Homo sapiens: one gene and its partners. The protein of the gene in region 1 purifies or fractionates together with the protein of each later gene. This does not show direct contact. Each region holds a gene or a part of one and is shown in the gene's direction. Other genes may lie near its edges.

Region 1 (5,975 bases):
GTTTGCTTTTTGTAATAACCAGTTCCATTATTTATTATGATCATGTTTTTTTGAAAGAAAATAAAAAGAGCTTATTCAGTCTTAAGATTTAAAAGGAGGTACACTGTTCTTCTTTTGTACTTTTAATTGCTTTTATCATTGTAAATTGTATTCTATGCAAGAGTTGTTTTCTGAATAATTATAGCATTACTGAAGAACAGCTCTAATTTGGTAACTAAGCAAGATCCTTAGAAGTGGTAATAAATGCAGAAAATTAGAGCGTAGAACAGTGAAACTTTATACAGTATTAAATATGTGAAATCATGCAATAACATTTACATTTCTAAAACAAGGAAATATATTTTTAAAAAATTATTTTCATTATCCCTTTGAATTTTATTCACTTGTGCTGTTATAAAGCAATTTCCATATACAGTTTGGTCTCTTTTTAGATTTTCTTTTCTATTTCACTGATCCATCTGTCCATGAGTTAGTACCATACTTTTTTAGTACCACACTTTTAATTAGAAATGTTTTATTGTATGCTTTAAAATCTGATAACAATAGCTTTGCTCTTTTTTTAAATCAGTTTTCTTAGTTCATTCTTATTTTATTATTCTTCCAAATGAATTTTAAGCAGTTCGTCTAGCTCCATGGGTAGGAGTGAGGGGTATTTTTATGGGATTGTATCACATTTTAAATTAACTTTGTGAGAACTGACATCTTTATCATGATGGGTCTTTCTGTTCTGCAACACTGGTTTAAATGTTTGTGTCTTTCCATTAGTTTAAATGTTTGTGTCTTTCAAAACAGATGGCCCCTGTTCTGTTGAAACTTAGTCTAGTAGGGTAGACAAAGATTAATCAAATAGGCTTATGAACTAATGTAAGATTTCAGTAGTGTTATGTGCTACATTTTTATTGGCAGTAATAGTAAATGTTTCAAATTGAGTTTATGTTTTAAAGCAATGTACTCATTCCATATTTATCTAATATTGATAGGAAATAAAAAATAATATTGGCCAGAATTTTTGTAAGTCGAGAGAGAGCAATGGTTGTTAAATTATAAGTGGCAGTGTTGGGCCAGGCAATGTTTTCTTTTTTCCACTGGGTTATTTTACTCTTCATGAAAGCTTTGGCTTACTGTTGGGTGTTTATTTTATTGAAAGCAGTATATAGATTTAATTCTTAGATATCCTCATTTATGTGTATTACACTCTTACTAATTTGTTAACTGAATGTATGTGGTTCTATCACACACATACTGTGAAGTTCGTGCCACACTGCATGAGTTGGAAATCAGCTGTCCTGAGAGCTGACTGAAAGGCAACATCCCAGACCATGGGATTTTTAGTTAAAGGATTTAAAAGTTACACTTAGCTGTAAAAAATTAAAATTAAGAACCTTGGTTGCCAGTTAATCCCAGTTTTTTCCCCACACCAATCCTGATTTGTGTCTACTGTTGGTATCTTAATCTTGTTAGTCTCTACCAGTCTGTGCCTTAGTAGCACTCTCTGTAAAAATGGGAGAAAGCAACTATTTTTATAACAAAGTAGATTTGCCTTGCTCATAATTCTGAGGATTAGGAATAAGAGTCTGTATTTAATTCATTAATCTTTGAGGATTTGGTGAAATGTAAAATAATGATTGCTGCACCTTAGGGGGATCAGTTCTGCAAATTTGTGTAAGATAAACTGGAGCAGAAAAAGATGAGATAAGGAGATAAATTAATAGGCTCCTAAAGTAATCCATGTAAGAGGTAATGAATACTTGAATGTGGTTAGAAGAACTAAAAGGGAGATCCCTGATACAGACAACATTGTAAGGATAAAGTCCAGAAGCCTTTGCAGATTAAATGTGGAGTGTAGGCCAGAGTAGCAACAAGTAAGGGAATGAATTTGGATCTGGTCTAGGTGATGATAGTTTGGTCTCCATAAATAGAAATAATGGATTTGGGAAGCATTTGTTTTGGTGGAGTTAGTAATGTTTGAAGCTTATTGTCAGGACTTAGAAGCCATGTAGGTATTGGGATCAATGAGATGAAGATGTATCTCAGGAGATAGTTGGGGATTAGAGAGGTAGATTTGGTAGATAATAAAGCAATAGTTATAATTGAGATCATCAATAGGGAAACTAGAGGTTAAAATCCTTGAGTTGGAGGATACCTGGGAAATGTGGGAAAAGTCAAGGATGGTAGGATCTAAGAAAAGCCTCTTAAATTTGGTAATATGGTGTTCAGTAGTGTGACAGCAGTAAAATAAAGAAATAAAGGTTTCTTCCTTCCTTTTCTTTCCATGTGTGCTTAATACATATATGATGCGCAAATATCTTTTTTTAAACCTGAGTTGAAAGTTATAATATTAATGAAACATTTCTTAAGAACAAAATGGTATTATCTCCTGAATACCATAAGGAAGCAGTATTAAAGAGTTAGGCTTTTAGTATTATTGCCATCTTTTCTACCCTGTTACCCTTTTCTCTTCCCTGCCTTTATTCCTTAACTCTCCACGAGAAAGGCATCAGCCTTTGGTCTTCAAAATAAGAACTAGTACAAAAGATTTCATGAGAAAAATGGATCCTGAAAGCATATATTATTGAGGATTTTTGCTTTTCTATACTGCTAAAAATGCCTGCATTTTAAGTTTATCATTAAGGTGAGCTTTGGAAAAAATTTTAGCCTAATGTCGTCTTCTGCTATGGTTGAAAAATTGCAGGCTTTGGCATAGCTGTCCCCAAAATATCTTAGCACACTTTTTTATTTTTTAACGTTTTGAATTTTTTTTTCTTTAAGAGAGAGACAGGCTCTCACTCTGTCACCCAGGTTGGGGTGCTGTGGTGTATTCATAGCTCACTGCAGCTTTGAACTCCTAGGCTGAAGTGGTCCTATCACCTCAACCTCCCAAATAGTTGGGACTACAGGTGTGCCACCATGCCTGGCTAAATTTTTAAAACAGTTTTGTAGAGACGGTTTCTCACTAGGTTGCCCAGGCTGGTCTCAAGCTCTTGGCCTCAGGTGACCCTCCCACCTCAGCCTCTCGAAGTGCTGGGAATGCAGACGTGAGCCACTGTGCCCAGCCAACACACGTTCTTGACACGGTGAGGACATGCTCCATACCATGTCCACTAAAAGTCTGGGTAGAAAAATCAGTTCCAAATGCTGAAGGAAATGCCTCCAGCCCACTGTATTTGTGAAGAAAATCTTGGGTATCAGGGCTGCTATTTTAATTTTGCCTTAAAACAAGCATTGCTCAGAATACATGTTGTACCAAAGAATATAGACTTGACTTTGCTTGTACATGTGACTGTTTTAAGAAAGCAGTGTCGAGGCCACAATTAGAAGCAGAACACATTTAGTTTCTTTGCCTGCAGCCCCAATGTCTTTGGTACATCTGTGTCCTAAATCATAGTTGTAGTAATGTTTGTATTCATCACACAGCATCAAAAATTAGGTAAGTATGACAGGCAAGTGCCTAGTGTGTTTTAGTGGTATTTTCAAAATGAATTCATGTCACACCCAAATGAATTGCTCTCTCAGGGAACCCAGTAGAGAAGGTTGTACCTGAGTTAACTTCCAGAGCATCCTCTGCCTATCTGCCTATTTCTGCCAGTGGCCAGAATGAATTTGTGTGGTATATTTTTCTCCTAATTTTTATAGCTTTTAATGTCTACCTAATGCTCCAAGTTTAGTCTGATTATTTAATGTGCAGAAATCATTAAAACCATTTTCTGCCTCACAAAAAACTAAATCATTGGCTGTTACTAAACAATAATTAAGATTTATACTTCATAGGTATGTAAGTATAAAATCAGCAATAAAAAGACCAGGTGCAGTGACTCACACCTGTAATCCCAGTGCTTTGGGAGACCAAGGCTGGCGAATCACTTGAGGCCAGGAGTTTGAGACCAGTCTGGCCAACATGGTAAAACCCCATCTCTACTAAAAATATAAAAATTAGCCAGGCGTGGTGATGCACACCTGTAATCTCAGCTACTAAAGAGGCTGAGGCATGAGAATCTCTTGAACCCTGGAGGCGGTGGTTGCAGTGAGCTGAGATCGCGCCACTGCACTCCAGCCTGGGTGACAGAGTGAGACTCTTTAAAAAATAAAAAAAAAATAAAATCAGCAATACAAGTTTTTGTGAGCAAGAAGAAGCAATTTTGTTCTTGCTTCTTTATGATTAACCTACCCAAGAACCTTAATTACTACAGAGATAAAACTAAACTGCTTTTTAAAAAATAAAGTAGCAGTAATAGTTATGCTAAATATGTAATATTAGCATAACTAATATTAGCTATTAGCATAACTAATATTAGCTATTAGCATAACTAATATTAGCTAGCTATTAGCATATTATTAGCATAACTAAATATTACATATTACTAAATATGCTAATAAGTAATAGTTATGCTAAAAATGTGTCAATTTAGTGTCAGCAACCTTTTTTTTAAATAGATGTATTCGGGCATTAACGATACAGATTTTTGCACCCCAGTTAGACTGTTCCTGCTTGTGTTGATATTCTATTATTGCATAACAAGTTACAGTAAACTTACCAGCTTAAAATAATACCTGTTTGTTTTCTAACAGTTCAATAGGTTAGAAGTCCTGGCATAGCATGGCCAGGTTCTGAACTCATGGTCTCACAAGGCTGAAATCAAAGTGTTGGCCAAGGCTGGGGACTCATGTGAAGCTTGGGGTCCTCTTCCAAGCTCATGTGGTTGTTGACAGAATGCAGTTCCTTGGGACTGTAGGACTGTGGCCCTTGTTTTCTTTCTAGCTCTCAGCCAAGAACCACTGACAGCTCCCAGAGGCCACGTGCAGGGCCTTGCCATGCGTGGTCTCCATAGGCGGTTCACAACATGCATGTTTGCTTCTCCCGGGCCAGCAGTTTTATCTCTTTACTTCAAGTCTCTTCTTCCAGGAAGGCCTAATTTCTTTTAAGAGATTACCTGATATATCTGCCCTCTCCAGGGTAGTTTGCCTTTTGGTTAACTCAAATGCAACTGATTTGGAGCCTCATATATCTATAAAATGCCACCAATTTTGTCACATAATAGGACCTAATAATGGGAGTGACATCCATCATATTCACAGGCCAGATACAGTCAAGAGGGATGATATGGGGCATGTACACCAGGGGCAGGAATATTGGGGCCATCTCAGAATTCTTCCTACCATGTTGCCATAAGTAAAGGGGTCTTCTCAAATATGCTCAACAGGTGCTAGCTTTTATCTTTCATCAAATTTTTGGAAAAATAATACCAAAATATTAACTGAGAAATAATTTTTCCTTAGATTTTGTGTCATCCTGAAGTTCTTTTTAGATTATATAAAACAATTTTTTTTCTTAAATTGGAAAAAATACTTTCCAAAATACTTATTGGATATTAAAATGTTCCAAAAATTATTTTAAGAAAATATATTGCCTAATACCACTGTAACTTAGCATAGTGAGTTGAGGGCTTAGCATATTTAGTAATCTAATTATATCCTCTTACAAGACAAAAATACCTTTGTTTTACAGAGTAATACAAAGGCAAGTCTGTAACTAGTTATTTTTCATTCTAAAAGATATCATAGGTTAGATTTGTTATATTAGATTGTACTGATGGCATATTAGCAAAATTAAAAATGGTTTGATTTCCTGGTCATAAATAAGCTGATTTGCACTATAATAAACAATGAATAAACAATAAGTGAACAATGATGTAGGAAGTATCCTGGTGAAAGCCATATTTACAATAAACTTGACACTTTTTGAATGCCATGTGAATATTATTTCATGAGTATAAAGGATGAGAGTGGTTTAATTAATTGTTCATCTACCAAATAACGTCCACTGCACAGAAAAAAAGACTAATTTCCTTTTTAAAAATCACTACTTATGCCCAATTTTAATAACATTTTAATTGTTTGGCTTTTGAAAATATGCAAATATTAGAACGTGACAAATAATGGTCAGCAGACCAGGTAAGAGACAGGATTTAATTTTCTAG
Region 2 (5,975 bases), on another chromosome or scaffold:
GCAGGAGTTTTAGGGTCCCCCAGAGGCTCATGGGAACAGGGGTTTGGGGTGCCCCAGAGGCTCACGGGAGCCAAGGCAGTCTTCCCAGTGCGGTAGAGCATAGGGTCTGAGCAGATTGAGGCCCCAGGACTCCTCCTCATGTCCCACCCTACTCCAGCCCAGCACCCCCCTATGGGCTCTTCGTTGGGGGCCGTTTCCAGGCTCCTGGGGCCCGAAGCTCCAGGCCCATCCGGGATTCGTCTGGCAACCTCCATGGCTACGTGGCTGAGGGTGGAGCCAAGGACATCCGAGGTGCTGTGGAGGCCGCTCACCAGGCTTTCCCTGGGTAAGGGGTCACACGGGAAAGCCCAAGGGTCATGGTGTGGCAGAGAGGGGAGCCTGCCCACAGCAATTGGTGGACTGGGAGGCTGGGCCCCCAGGGTAGGGGCTGTGGACAGAGGTGGGGTGTCAGGAGAGCCAAGACCAGGATGCCAACCCCCACTGTGCGCTGTCTGCCCACAGCTGGGCGGGCCAGTCCCCAGGAGCCCGGGCAGCCCTGCTGTGGGCCCTGGCGGCTGCACTGGAGCGCCGGAAGTCTACCCTGGCCTCGAGGCTGGAGAGGCAGGGAGCGGAGCTCAAGGCTGCGGAGGCGGAGGTGGAGCTGAGCGCAAGACGACTTCGGGCGTGGGGGGCCCGGGTGCAGGCCCAAGGCCACACCCTGCAGGTGAAGGGTCTGTGGGCACCTGGGCCAGCTGGGCAGGCGGGGTGGGGCTCAGACCAGAGGCTGTGAGATAACCCAGGCTTGGAATTCGGGCCCAGCCCCACCGCCTTCCACGGCAGGATCATCAGCAAGTGGCTTCACCTCTCCCTACCTCAGTTCCCTCATCTGTACAGTGAGTGGGCACACAACCCGCCTCGTAGAGTAGCGTTCGCCAGATGATGGATAGCGACCCATTCCTGGACCCTAAAATCAATTTAGTGGGCTGTTAGGCGGTTCTCACATTGCTGTAAAGAAACACCTGGGGGCGCAGTGGCTCACGCCTGTAATCCCAGTACTTCGCGAGGCTGAGGCAGGCGGATCACGAGGTCAGGAGATCGAGACCAGCCTGGGCAACACGGTGAAACCTGGTCTCTACTAAAAATACAAAAAATTAGCTGGGTACGGTGGTGGGCACCTATAGTCCCAGCTACTTAGGAGGCTGAGGCAGGAAAATTGCTTGAACCCAGGAGGCAGTGGTTGCAGTGAGCCGAGATCGTGCCACTGCACTCCAGCCTGAGTGACAGAGTGAGACCTTGTGTCACAAAAAAAAACAAAAAACAAAAAATACCTGGCCAGACATGGTGGCTCACGCCTGTAATCCTAGCACTTTGGGAGGCAAAAGTGGGTGGATCGCTTGAGGCCAGGAGTTTGAAACCAGCCTGGGCAACACAGTGAAACCCTGTCTCCACAAAAAATAGATAAATTAGCTGGGCATGTTGGCACCAGTCTCCCTCTGGCACCCGGCTGGAGTGCAGTGCCACAATCATGGCTCACTGCAGCCTCAACCTCCGAGGTCCAAGTGAGCCCCCCACCTCAGCCTCCTGAGTATCTGGGATCACAGGCACACACCAGCACACATGACTGGGTGTTTTTGTATTTTTGCAGAGACAAGAGACTCGCCATGTTGCCCAGGCTGATCTTGAACTCCTAGCTTCAAGTGATCCGCCTGTCTTGACCTCCCAAAGTGCTGGGATTATAGGCGTGAGCCACTGCGCCTGGCCAGGGATTACATTTCAACATGAGATTTGGGTGGGACATCTGAACTATATCATGGGCCAAACCATATTTCTTTCTTTCTTTTTTTTTTTTTTTTGAGACAGAGTCTCGCTCTGTCGCCCAGGCTGGAGTGCAGTGGCGCAATCTCGGCTCACTGCAACCTCTGCATCCCAGGTTCACGCCATTCTCCTGCCCCAGCCTTCCGAGTGGCTGGGACTACAGGTGCCCACCACCACACCCGGCTAATTTTTTTTTTGTATATTTAGTAGAGACAGGGTTTCACCATGTTAGGATGGTCTCGATCTCCTGACCTCGTGATCCGCCCACCTTGGCCTCCCAAAGTGCTGGGATTACAGGTGTGAGCCACTACACCCGGCCTTCTTTTTTTTAAATTTTATTTTACTTTAGTTCTGGGATACATGTGCAGAACGCGCAGGCTTGTTACATAGGGATACACGTGCCATGGTGGTTTGCTGCACCTATTGACCTGCCCTCTAAGTTCCCTCCCCTTGCCTCCCACCCCCCAACACCATATTTATTTTTAACAAAAGAAAATAGACCAGGCGCAGTGGCTCACGCCTGTAATCTCAGCACTTTGCGAGGCCAAGGTGGGCAGATCACAAGGTCAAGAGATCGAGACCATCCTGGCTAACACAGTGAAACCCCGTCTCTACTAAATATACAAAAAAAAAAAATTAGCCGGGCATGGTGGCAGGTGCCTGTAGTCTCAGCTACTCAGGAGACTGAGGCAGGAGAATGGCGTGAACCCGGGAGGCGGAGGTTGCAGTGAGCCAAGATCGCACCACTGCACTCTAGCCAGGGCGACAGAGTGAGAGTCCGTCTCAAAAAAAAAAAAAAAGAAAGGCGGTTATGCAGGATGTTTCTCACCGCCCGAACCCCCGTGGAATGATTCACTTTGACCAGCGTCTGCGAAATGGCAGGGGCTTCCACAATGGTGCGGTTTGGGCCAACACCAAGTGTTGGGGAGAATGTAGAGGAACTGGATCTCTCATTTACTGCGGGCGGGGCTCCCCTGCCCCACACGTGACCCACCTGTCCCTGCAGGTAGCCGGGCTGAGAGGCCCTGTGCTGCGCCTGCGGGAGCCGCTGGGTGTGCTGGCTGTGGTGTGTCCGGACGAGTGGCCCCTGCTTGCCTTCGTGTCCCTGCTGGCTCCCGCCCTGGCCTACGGCAACACTGTGGTCATGGTGCCCAGTGCGGCCTGTCCTCTGCTGGCCCTGGAGGTCTGCCAGGTATAGCCCCCTGCCTTCCTGCCTCTCCTCCCCGTAGCCTCAGGGCAGCAGAAAAAGGCGCCCCAAAGTCGGCAGGAGCTTGTCTCTTACCCCACCCTCCGTGGTACCCATGCTGCCCCCAGCCCCAGCACCCAAACCTTCACTCCTTGGGGACCCAGTGCCCATTCTTCACCCTAGGCCTGGGGCTTTCTCCTCCATGACCCCCCATCCCCTTCCCTCCCATGGGCACCCCCTGAATGCCCACTCCTTGCCCTGCCCCCACGGCCTCCCCAACCTTTCACTCTCTCTATCCCCTAGGACATGGCCACCGTGTTCCCAGCAGGCCTGGCCAACGTGGTGACAGGAGACCGGGACCATCTGACCCGCTGCCTGGCCTTGCACCAAGACGTCCAGGCCATGTGGTATTTCGGATCAGCCCAGGTGCTCTTTGTTCTGTTTTGCCATCTTCAGCATCTCAAACTTCAAACAGGCTCCTCCTTTTCTGGAAACACAGCCCCGCCCTCTTAGAACTCCTGTTGGTAAGGGGAGAAACTCCTTGACAAGAAGGTTTTGAGGCCCCGCCCTTAGGACTCAAGTTACTAAGGAAGAGGCTGTCCTTAGCAACAGGGGCCTGAGAGCTGCCTAGCCCAAAGACCTCGTCTCAGGGGACAGCCCGTTGCTAAGGACCACACCCTAGATTTGGAGGCCCACAGTCTACGCTTTGTTTTTCTATTTTGAGACAGAACCTCACCCTGTCACCCAGATGCAATCATACCTCACTGCAGCCGCAACCTCCCAGGCTCAAGCCACCGTCCCACCTCAGCTTCCTGAGTAGCTGGGACCACAGGCGTGCACCACCATGCCCAGCTAATTTTTTTCTTTTGCAGAGACTGGGGTTTCTCTATGTTGGCCAGGCTGATCTTGAACTCCTGGGCTCAAGTGATCTGCCCGCCTCGGCCTCTCAAAGTGCTGGGATTACAGGTGTGAGCCAGCACAACTGGTTGAGTCTACTGTTTTTTTTTTTATTTTATTTTATTTTATTTTATTTTTTTTGAGACAGAGTCTCACTCTGTCGCCCAGGCTGGAATACAGTGGCACGATCTTGGCTCACTGCAACCTCTGCCTCCCGGGTTCAAGTGATTCTCCTGCCTCCCAAGTAGCTGAGACTACAGGCACTCACCGCCATGCCCAGCTAATTGTTGGGGGTTTTTTTTTAGTAGAGATGGGGTTTCGCCATATTGGCCAGGCTGGTCTCGAACTCCTGACCTCGCGTGATCTGCCTGCCTCAGCCTCCCAAAATGCTGAGATTACAGGCGTGAGCCACTGTGCCCAACCAATTTTTACTTTTTAAATGGAGACGGGGTCTCGCCATATTGTCCAGGCTGGTCTCAAACTCCTGAACTCAAGCGATCCTCCCGCCTCAGCCACCCCAAGTGCTGGGATTACAGGAGCGAGTCACCGCGCCCCACCGTCCACTCTCTTAAACCTCCTGTTGGTAACAGATGTGAACTTGTTGACAAGAGCCTTGGGGCCCATTCCTTTCAACATGGGCTGTTAAGGGAGAGGAAATTCCCTAACCACTGGGTCCAGTGCTTTTCCCTACCATCTGGAAGTTCTGCTTGGGAGGAGCTGGGCATTGTAGCTGCAGAGCCTGGGTCCAGCCTGAAGCCCCTCGTCAGTAACAGTCTTCATCGCGGAGGAAGCAGGTGCTCAGCAACAAGCCTGCAGAAGTGCTTACCCCCGTCTCTTCCTCCCCTCAGGGTTCCCAGTTTGTCGAGTGGGCCTCGGCAGGAAACCTCAAACCGGTGTGGGCGAGCAGGGGCTGCCCGCGGGCCTGGGACCAGGAGGCCGAGGGGGCAGGCCCAGAGCTGGGGCTGCGAGTGGCGCGGACCAAGGCCCTGTGGCTGCCTATGGGGGACTGATGCCTGAGCGCCACCTACTGCATTTTGGACACCTCACACCAAGGGGAGATGCACCCCACAGACACCTGGGACTTTCCCCTTCTGGTTCCTGTGTCTCCCAATAAACTCTCTGACCAACCCTAGCTGTGCTTCTGCGAGAAGAAAGGGTGTAGCAACTTCTGGCAGATATGAGGCTTTTTTCTTTTTTTTTTTTTTTTTTGAGACAACGTCTGGCTCTGTCACCCAGGCTGGAGCGCAGTGGCACAATCTCGGCCCACTGCAGCCTCGACCTCTGGGGCTCAAGGGATCCTCATGCCTCAGCCTCATATGTAGCTGGGGCCACAGACATGCACCACCACACCTGGCTCGAGGCCATTTTAGTTCTGAGGTTGAGCAGCTCAGGAGCCGGCTCCAGCACGGTGCTGTGTTTGTGAAACAGAGAAAGGGGACCCCCGAGGACCCCAGACAGGGCCTTAGGACTCTCATATCTTCTTGTCTTCTCCATCTGGTGGCTCTTGCTCTCTGGTTTTCTCTACCTTTTCATGGCCCCAGAATCCATATGCAGTAAAGGAACTCTCTGGAATAAAATTAAAGTCCTCCTATATGACTTTTGTCAATTTCCATGATGTAAATGCTCCCACCGTGCCGGATTTCAAGGTACAGGTGATTAAACAACTGCCTGCGAGATCCTGAATTGTTAACAGGTCAGCTCCCATGAGCCAATACGAGCCGCTTCAGCACACCACTGCCTTAGGATTCTGGTTGTGGGTGGGTTTTTTTGGTTTGTTTTTTGTTTTTTCGAGACAGAGTCTCTCTGTCGGCCAGGCTGGAGTGCAGCGGGGTGATCTCGGCTCACTGCAACCTCCGCCTCCCAGGTTCGAGCGATTCTCCTGCCTCGGCCTCCAGAGTAGCTAGAATTACAGGCTCGCGCCACCACACCCAGATAATTTTTTGTATTTTTAGTACAGACGGGGTTTCACCATCTTGGCCTGGCTGGTTTCAAACTCCTGACCTCAAGCGGTCCGCCTGTCTTGGTCTCCCCAAAGTGCTAAGATTACAGACTTAAGCCACTGCGCACGACTGTTGATTTTTAAATAAAGGATCTTGCT
Region 3 (4,169 bases), on another chromosome or scaffold:
GTAGCTTGTTTGTAATAGTAAGAAATTGGAACCAATTCAAATATTCTTCTCTAGGGGATTAGGTAAATAAATTATGGAGTACCCGTAAAATAGATTACTGTGTAACTGTTTTAAGAAATGAAGAAGCTCTTTATATGCCAATGGGGGTGTTCTCCAGAGTATAAATAAAAATTAAGGTGTAGACCAGTATGTATAGAATGATACCATTTTGAAGAAAAGTGTTTTTACACGTGCATGTGTATACAATATTAAAATATTTCTAGAAGGATGATGAACACTGGATACAGGTTTTACTTGACCTTTTTATACCTTTTCAGTTTTATGTCATGTAACATAGTACGTATTCAAAAAATAATTTGAAAAAAGATGGTTTAATACAATTTAATGTTCATTCCTGATTTAAAAAAATCTTAAAGTATAGAAAGATGCTTCTTTAATGTGTTAAAAATCTAAAACCGACAACAATCATGTATAATGCAATGAAATAAGATGTGAAACAATACAAGAAGTTATTATTTTTAGATGATGTGATTGTTTAATCTGCAAAATCCCAGAAAATCAGCTCACAGTAATTAGCTGGACTCACTAAATGTTTAAGAATCCATACCTCTTCTAGTTATAAAAGAAAATAGAGAAAAGAATCCAAGAAAGTATAGCTACAGATAAATAAAATATTTAGGACTATCCTTCAAAAAGTGAGTAGGACCTATGTGAAAAAAACTACAGGATAAAGACAGATTCTTCCTTCACAGTTTTGAATACATCTAGAATACATTTTGATAAGTTGATTTTTTTTTAAGTTAAAAACTATATAGATAAATGTTGACTTTCAGAATGGAAAAGGATTTTATAAGTATAAAAGGAGCAGAAAAGTAAAGCTAAAATATTGAATCTCTAAAAATTAGAAATTTCTGTATGTCAGTAAGTCATTGAACTGGGAGAAATATATGCAGAAAAGGTTACATTCTAAAATAGAAAAAAGCATTACACAGCAGTAATAACATTAATTCCTCCATATAAAGATTAACAATGTGTTATTATATTAACATTCTTTACAGATAGGTCTCTCCTGTATAAGTGTCTGCTTTATAAGGATGGAATCCATGGCTTCTTTATTTTCCTGTTTGACAGTAGCATGATGCTTTGTGTATAATGGCATTTGATACATACTTGTTGAATTAATATTGCCAGAAACCTTGTAGTTTGCCAGTTTGACTCTTGTTTACAGATTTATAAAGATACAAGAGATCTTTTAGCTTAAGTAACTTGTCCAAAATTACAGAATGAGCTGTTGACAGATCTGAGCTATCTGTAAGATGGGGCTGATAATAGTGTCTCAAAGTTGTTGTGAAGTTTGAGTGAGCCACTATATGTGGAACACTTAGCATAGTGCCTGAAACATAGTATGAAAGAAACATATCTGTTAAGATAAAAATGTGTATTAATTTAATGGAACAGCTCTCTGCTGCCTAAAATCACATACTCTCACCCCCAGATACTAACCATAGGCCTGTATGGTCACAGGCAGTTGAATAAAGATGTGAAATTTAATGCATGAAAATGTAGTGAGACATGTTACCACAAAATTGATATAAAGACCATGATGTCATGACTCAGTAGAGTAAGGCTGTGTGGTAACCTTATTTGATGTGGCCCTAAACAGTAGGGATACAAAGAAAACAAAGGTCATTAGAATACAGATAATTAACAAGAGCATACCATAGATCATGTTCATCAGCTGAAAATGGAATGCATCCTTAAAATGAAGGCTTTGAGTGACAGAATTGCCAGCACAGTCCTACTGTGTGAAAGAACTGAAGTTACAATCCATTCTTCACAGTGTGTCTGTAATGTGAGGACTGCTTTATATAGAAAAATCTTACAGTCACTTTTAAATATAGGGATATTGTCAGCGTTTTCTAACAGGAAGATAATTTTGTGCTTCATAAGTAAGAGGCCTTTTAATATCCGAATAGGCAGTTACTTGTAACTATACAGTAACTCAGTAATTACTGTCTTACATGCTTAGCTTGCTCTGTGTGACAGAGTATCTGTGTAGATAGGTCTGAGCGCCAAGATGGATGGGTGAAATGCTAAAGTGATAGTTTTACTCTTTTTGTTTGTTAAATTTAGGTCCACTTTAAAGCATAGGATTTTCAATGCTTTTCTAAAAATTCATTTTAAATTTCATTTGTAGGTGCTGTGTATGATGTGAGTCACTATAATGCTTTACTTAAAGTCTATCTTCAAAATGAATATAAATTCTCACCAACTGATTTCCTGGCAAAAATGGAGGAAGCAAACATTCAACCAAATCGAGTAAGTAGTTGCTATTGTGAATATATTTTCACATCCACCATTTTTTTTCTTTACTCAGAAAAAAAAGTATATTTAAAATTAACTGGCCCATTTCATTGACAGGTGACATACCAGAGATTGATTGCTTCTTATTGTAATGTAGGAGATATTGAAGGTGCCAGGTATGGATCTGTATGAACATGTTTAAGCGAACAAATTTGTACATTTTGTAAATCTAATGTCTGTTCACTCTTTGTTTTAAAGCTTCTTCCTAATGGAGGAAATTGTTTCAGAACTGTTTTAATCTAGAAAATCTGGTAATCTGACTTACATAAAATATAAAATTATCGTGTAAGAGAGAAAAGATAAGTAAAAGTTGCTATTTTAATTAAAAATTTGATTTACTGGAGAGAGGTATAAAGTTGTTGAGCTATAAAGCTGACTTTGCTTTTTTTTTTTTTTTTTTAAATATTTCCTAAGGGAAATGTTCTTAACCATTTAAGCTGTATTCATTTATAAAACTGGAAGTAGTGTAGAAAATCAGTTGCACCATTTCTCTGCTTATGTAAAATTTATTACTACTTATGAATGGAAGGTTTGGAAAATAAGGGATAAATTGGAATACATAATTTCATTTTTATCTAAAAGAATCTTATGAAACTATGCTTTTAAAAGGGTAATTAGTAGTGTAAGACAAATCAGATAATCAGATTTTTAAAAATCTAGTATTTGTATCGATAGTACTTCAAGACTGTTGATACATTAGAGAGTGGGGTTTTGTGGGAAGGGGATCAAAGGGATTAGTTCTTTCTTTGTGGTTTCTAAAACAAATGTATATTACTATTATATTTTAAAAACAAAAGTAACTCAAGGCCTAATTCTGTACATGTTGTAAAGAGTGTTCTTATAAATACTTTCAATGAGTATCTTCGTTTTTCCTTTGCAGCAAGATTCTTGGATTTATGAAAACTAAGGATCTCCCAGTTACAGAGGCAGTATTCAGTGCCCTTGTGACAGGGCATGCCAGAGCTGGGTAATGTTCAACCTAAGGTTTTGGTTCTTAAGTGATAGATGGCTGAGATGCTAAAGTGGTCATTTTACTCCTTTTTTGTTTGTTAAGTGGGGTTTAAATTAGAGAAAATTATTGTAGACAGTTCTTAAAATACATTTGTCTATCCCTTCAAAAAAAAATCTGTAGTATATGAGGTAGAGCATACTAATATTTTTATAATGAGCTTTTACATTTGTTCCACAAATCTTTCTTTTATTTGAATTTTTAGAAATTGGGCTTGAAGCCGGGCGTGGTGGCTCATGCCTGTAATCCCAGCACTTTGGGAGGCTGAGGTGGGCAGATCACCTGAGGTCAGGAGTTCAAGACCAGCTTGGCCAACATGGTGAAACCCGGTCTCTACAAAAATATAAAAATTTAGCCGGGCATGATGGCAGGTGCCTGTAATCCCAGCTACTTGGGAGTCTGAGGCAGGAGCGTTGCTTGAACCCGGGAGGCAGAGGTTGCAGTGAGCCGAGATTACACCATTGCACTCCAGCCTGGGAGACAGAGCAAGACTCCATCTCAAAAAAAAAAAAGAAAAAAGAAACTGGGCTTGATCTGATCTGAAGTAACTGCTCTGGAAAATATTTTTATTTTTGAAGAGTAATTTACTAAATGTTATTCTTACCTCGAAAGTTAAGTCTGAGTCATAACCTACATAATATTAAGAGGGTATGTTATTTAATGTCTATGTAATTATTATTATTTTTTAATGGGGGATCAGATGTTTATGATCTTTATTATTTCAGAAACATATATCCAGTTTAATATACATTAGTTCTTTTCTGACATCATAATTCCAAATGGTACTTAGCATTTT
Region 4 (4,083 bases), on another chromosome or scaffold:
CATTTGCATTTCTTGTTTCCTGTGTCTGGAAATTTCTTCCCCTGCAAGGCTCTGTCTCTCACCCCCTTCTGGTCTTTGCTAAAAACGCCACCTACTTGATGAGGTTTTTCCTGATCCTCCTATTTTAAATTGCAAACACTTGGCTGGGCGCGGTGGCTCACACCTATAATCCCAACAGTTTGGGAGGCCGAGGTGGGTGTATCACCACCTGAGGTCAGGAGTTCAAGACTAGCCTAGCCAATATGGTGAAACCCCATCTCTACTAAAAATACAAAAAGTAGTCGGACGTGGTGGGCACCTGTAATCCCAGCTACTCGGGAGGTTGAGGCAGAAGAATTGCTTAAACCCGGGAGAAGGAGGTTGCAGTGAGCCGAGAACGCGCCATTGTACTCCAGCCTGGGCGACAAGAGCAAAACTCCGTCTCAAAAAAACAAAGAAAAAAATTGCAAACACTTAACTCCCCCACTCCATTCTCCTTCTCTAATTTTTTCTTTATAGCCCTTATCACCATCTGACTGACAGATTCTTTTAAATTTTGATATTTTGTTTGCCATGGATTTTTTGCATTTTGTTTTTTTAAAAAAACAATTGTATTAAAATACTGTTTATCTTGGTTACTGAGTTCTTTGCTCCCATTCCCTGCCCTGCTTAAATTTCGCTCTATTGGTTTATTGACTGTGTCCTCTCTAGAACACAAGCTACACTGAACGCAGTTAATTTTGTCTGTTTGGTTCACTTCACTGTCCCCAGTGTCTACAGCAGTGGCTTCTACGTGGTAGCAGCTCAAAAAATATTTTGTGAATGGAAGTTTGAATCTGTGTCTTAAAGACTGTCTTGGGCACTGTAATAAAGGCGTCTTTCTCAAACTGTTTCACAATTTTATACTATTTAAATGGAAAGCCCGTAAAAATCATAGGATAGATTAGAAACTACACTGCCCAGTGTGTCGTCATGGTTACACTGTCGCCAGTGGTTCTCCTATTGGGGGAGTGGGCGGGGCCTGGCAGGGGCAGGAAGAGCACCCTCAAGTCATCATAGAGTTATACCTCCCAAGTTCCTAGAAAGTACTTCCGGAACGGTGATTTACTCAAGGCTGCCCTGGCCAATCAACGATCTTGGGGAAAGCCGGGTACTCGCTCTTTGGCTACACTTCCGGAAAACCTCTCACGCGCGCCTAGCGTGGGGCGGGGCCAGAGCGCCCCTGCCCTCGGCCCCGCCTCCGTGAGCGCGGCTTTGCAATTGGCGAAAAGGGCAGGAGGCGGGGCTTAGGAGCGGGCTTGCTCGAGGCGCAAGCGCGCTGGCCCGGCACGGCGGTGGTCTTGCGGGAGGCGTGGGCTGGGATTGCGGTAGGTGAACGTGGGTGACTCCCAGACCTGAGGGACGGGCGCGGGCAGCGAAATGAAGCGAGCACGCGGTGTGGGCGCGGAGACCTAGGACCCTGGTGTCCGTTTTCCCACTTGCATCCCGTCCTTGAGTTGGGGCGGGCGAGAATCCCATAAACTTTTCGATACTCCTGGTCTCCGTGTCCTCCGTTGTAAAATGAGGGCAGCACTTCCTGGTCTCTCCCTCGGTCGTCGTGAGAGTCACACAGTTCTCGAAGTGCCAGCTCTGGAAAGGCCCTGGGACCACCTGCTGCCTGAGCCAGCCTTCCCGTTTTATGTTGGAGAAAACGGAGGTCCGGGGCGAAGTGAGTGGTCCAGGGTCACCGAGCGAGTGAAGGCCGAGCTTGTTCTTAGAACTAGGCCTAGGGTTCCATTGCTGTTTAATGTAGCACAGTTCGTGATGGAAACTGTAGGATTTGGAGGCGGGGACCTTGCCTTCCAGGCCCGACCCTGCGCTTATTTGCTGTGTGGCTTGACACAAGTGACTTTATATTTCAGAGCCTCCCTTTTCTGAGTTGGGCATAATAATAATAATAATAGCACTTTGTGAGACTTAATATTATGTATCAGGTACGGTTGTAAACGCTTTAGGTACAACTTTTCTGATTAGATTGGGGGGCAATGGTGAGTCAAAGAATCTTTAAAAAGGCCTGGGCTGGAAGGGCTGACAGTGTCCCGACAGAGTAGGTACTCAAAAAAATCGACTGAATGTCTCAGAGGCTGTTTGCCAGAGCCTGAAGTGTTGCATACGTTAGTTACTGTATTGCTCCTGAAAAACTGAGATAATTCTACTTATTCTCCTGTTTGTATAAGCTGAGGGGTCTGAGGACAGACATGCTAAACGTGGAGGAGAAGAGTTTAAAGCTCTCGTTTAAATTATCCAGATAATTATATCATTGCACCTGTTTGCTTTGCTCTTAATTTATTAACATATTTGATCAACAGATAATAATAGCCTAAATAGTAGGCATTATGCGAGACTCTGAAATTTAAAGATGTATAAAACTTCATAAACTTGTAATTTCATCAAGGAATAGAATGTTAAACATCGACACTGACCTCCCCTCCTGGCCCCCGTACACACCCCCAGAAAGAAAAAAAATTGTATGTGAAACACCATTCGCTTCCAATGCCTGGCACACAATAGTTCCTCAAAAATATTTTTGGAGATGATTCTAATACAGTATACTAAAAAGAGGTGTGTGCAGTGGAGCACAGAGGAGGTGACTTTCTCTGTTTAGAGGGGTTGGAGAAAGTTTCTTGGAGTAAGTGAACCTTGAATTCCAGTTGGAATTGCTGGGGGTTGGGGGGAGGTCAGTCTGTTTCAAGAATAATGAGCAACTTGGGGAATGCTAGGATAAGAAGCTGGAAGAGGTGTGTTGGGATCAAAATGTGAAGAGCTTTGGTGCCATTCTGAGAAAATTATGAGAGCCAGCCGTTAATGGATTGTAAACAGGGGAGTGATTGGGTCAGCTATCTTTTTAGCTGGAGACTAATACGGAGACTGGACTGACAGGGTTCAAGAATTACTCCATTCATTCATTGATAGAACATGTATTGAGCCTGGGCACAGTGGCTCACACCTATAATCCCAGCAATTTGGGAAGCTGAGGCAGGTGGATCGCATGAGGCCAGGAGTTCAAGACCAGCCTGGGCAACATAGCAAGACTCCATCTCTATTTTTTAAGAAAGAAAAAAAGGAACATGTTATTGAGTGTCCACTGTGTCCAGGCACTGTGCTGAATGCTGCAGATAAAACTTGGAATAAAATAGACATAGCTGTCGTCTTCATGGAGTTTAAGACATTAGTCATTGGTGGTACACAGCTAGACCCCTGCAGTGGTTCTCCCAGTGGGGTCCCTGGACCAGCAGCATCTGTGTCACCTGGGAACTTGTTAGAAATACAGGTTCTCTGCCCACACCCCAAACTTACTAAATGAGAAGCTCTGGAGATGGGCCTCTGCAATCACTGTTTTAACAAACCCAACCGGGCATGGTGGCTCACGCCTGTAATCCCAGCACTTTGGGAGGCCGTGGCGGGCTGATCACTTGAGGTCAAGGAGTTTGAGACCAGCCTGGCCAACATGGTGAAACTCTGTCTGTACTAAAAATATGAAAAATAGTTGGGCATGGTGGCACATGCCTGTAATTCCAGCTACTCAGGAGGCTGAGGCAAGAGAATCTCTTGAGGCTGGGGGTACGGAGGTTGCAGTGATCTGACATTGCACCACTGCACTCCAGCCTGGGTGATAGAGTGAACTCTGTCTCTAAAAAAAAAAAAAAAAAAACAAGCCCTCCAGCGATTCTGATGCTCAATTAGATTTCAGAACCACTGGGTAACTGTAATGTAGCAAGTGGTATTGAGGGGCTAACCTAATGTTGAGGCAGTAAGGGCCAGAAAGGAGGGGGTGGACTTAAGGGAAACCTTGAGACAGACTCATTTGCTTTAGGAGGAATCAAGGATGAGTTTCTGGCTGGAGCCACTGCCCTAAGTAAGGTTGGATCACAAGGAAGTTATAGAGCCAGGGGTGAATCCACATGTGCCTTGCCTCCATGGCCCGTACGTTCCTACAACACCACACTAGGGCTCTGTGGCAGTGCCTGACCACCTTTAAACATTTGTACAGTGCACAGGGGAAATGAATGAGGCTGCTTGAGGTTGGAGGGGACAAGCTGGAGGACCTGAGGCTGCTAGAGGTAA

Evidence for each region.
Region 2: the proteins of PDHX (region 1) and ALDH16A1 fractionate together in Homo sapiens (co-fractionation; one large-scale study listed by BioGRID). This does not show direct contact.
Region 3: the proteins of PDHX (region 1) and LRPPRC fractionate together in Homo sapiens (co-fractionation; one large-scale study listed by BioGRID). This does not show direct contact.
Region 4: the proteins of PDHX (region 1) and PARS2 fractionate together in Homo sapiens (co-fractionation; one large-scale study listed by BioGRID). This does not show direct contact.

Annotation. Positions count from the first base shown.
Region 1 is NC_000011.10:34,960,525-34,966,499, forward strand, and holds part of PDHX (pyruvate dehydrogenase protein X component, mitochondrial isoform 1 precursor), read left to right. Parts: intron 1-5,975.
Region 2 is NC_000019.10:49,465,581-49,471,555, forward strand, and holds the end of ALDH16A1 (aldehyde dehydrogenase family 16 member A1), read left to right. Parts: intron 1-157; coding exon 158-325; intron 326-501; coding exon 502-703; intron 704-2,800; coding exon 2,801-2,986; intron 2,987-3,283; coding exon 3,284-3,406; intron 3,407-4,725; coding exon 4,726-4,887; 3' UTR 4,888-5,470; downstream 5,471-5,975.
Region 3 is NC_000002.12:43,975,305-43,979,473, reverse strand, and holds part of LRPPRC (leucine-rich PPR motif-containing protein, mitochondrial precursor), read left to right. Parts: intron 1-2,197; coding exon 2,198-2,319; intron 2,320-2,421; coding exon 2,422-2,480; intron 2,481-3,244; coding exon 3,245-3,331; intron 3,332-4,169. UniProt on the Homo sapiens protein: May play a role in RNA metabolism in both nuclei and mitochondria. In the nucleus binds to HNRPA1-associated poly(A) mRNAs and is part of nmRNP complexes at late stages of mRNA maturation which are possibly associated with nuclear mRNA export.
Region 4 is NC_000001.11:54,761,724-54,765,806, reverse strand, and holds the start of PARS2 (probable proline--tRNA ligase, mitochondrial precursor), read left to right. Parts: upstream 1-1,283; 5' UTR 1,284-1,346; intron 1,347-4,083. UniProt on the Homo sapiens protein: Mitochondrial aminoacyl-tRNA synthetase that catalyzes the specific attachment of the proline amino acid (aa) to the homologous transfer RNA (tRNA), further participating in protein synthesis.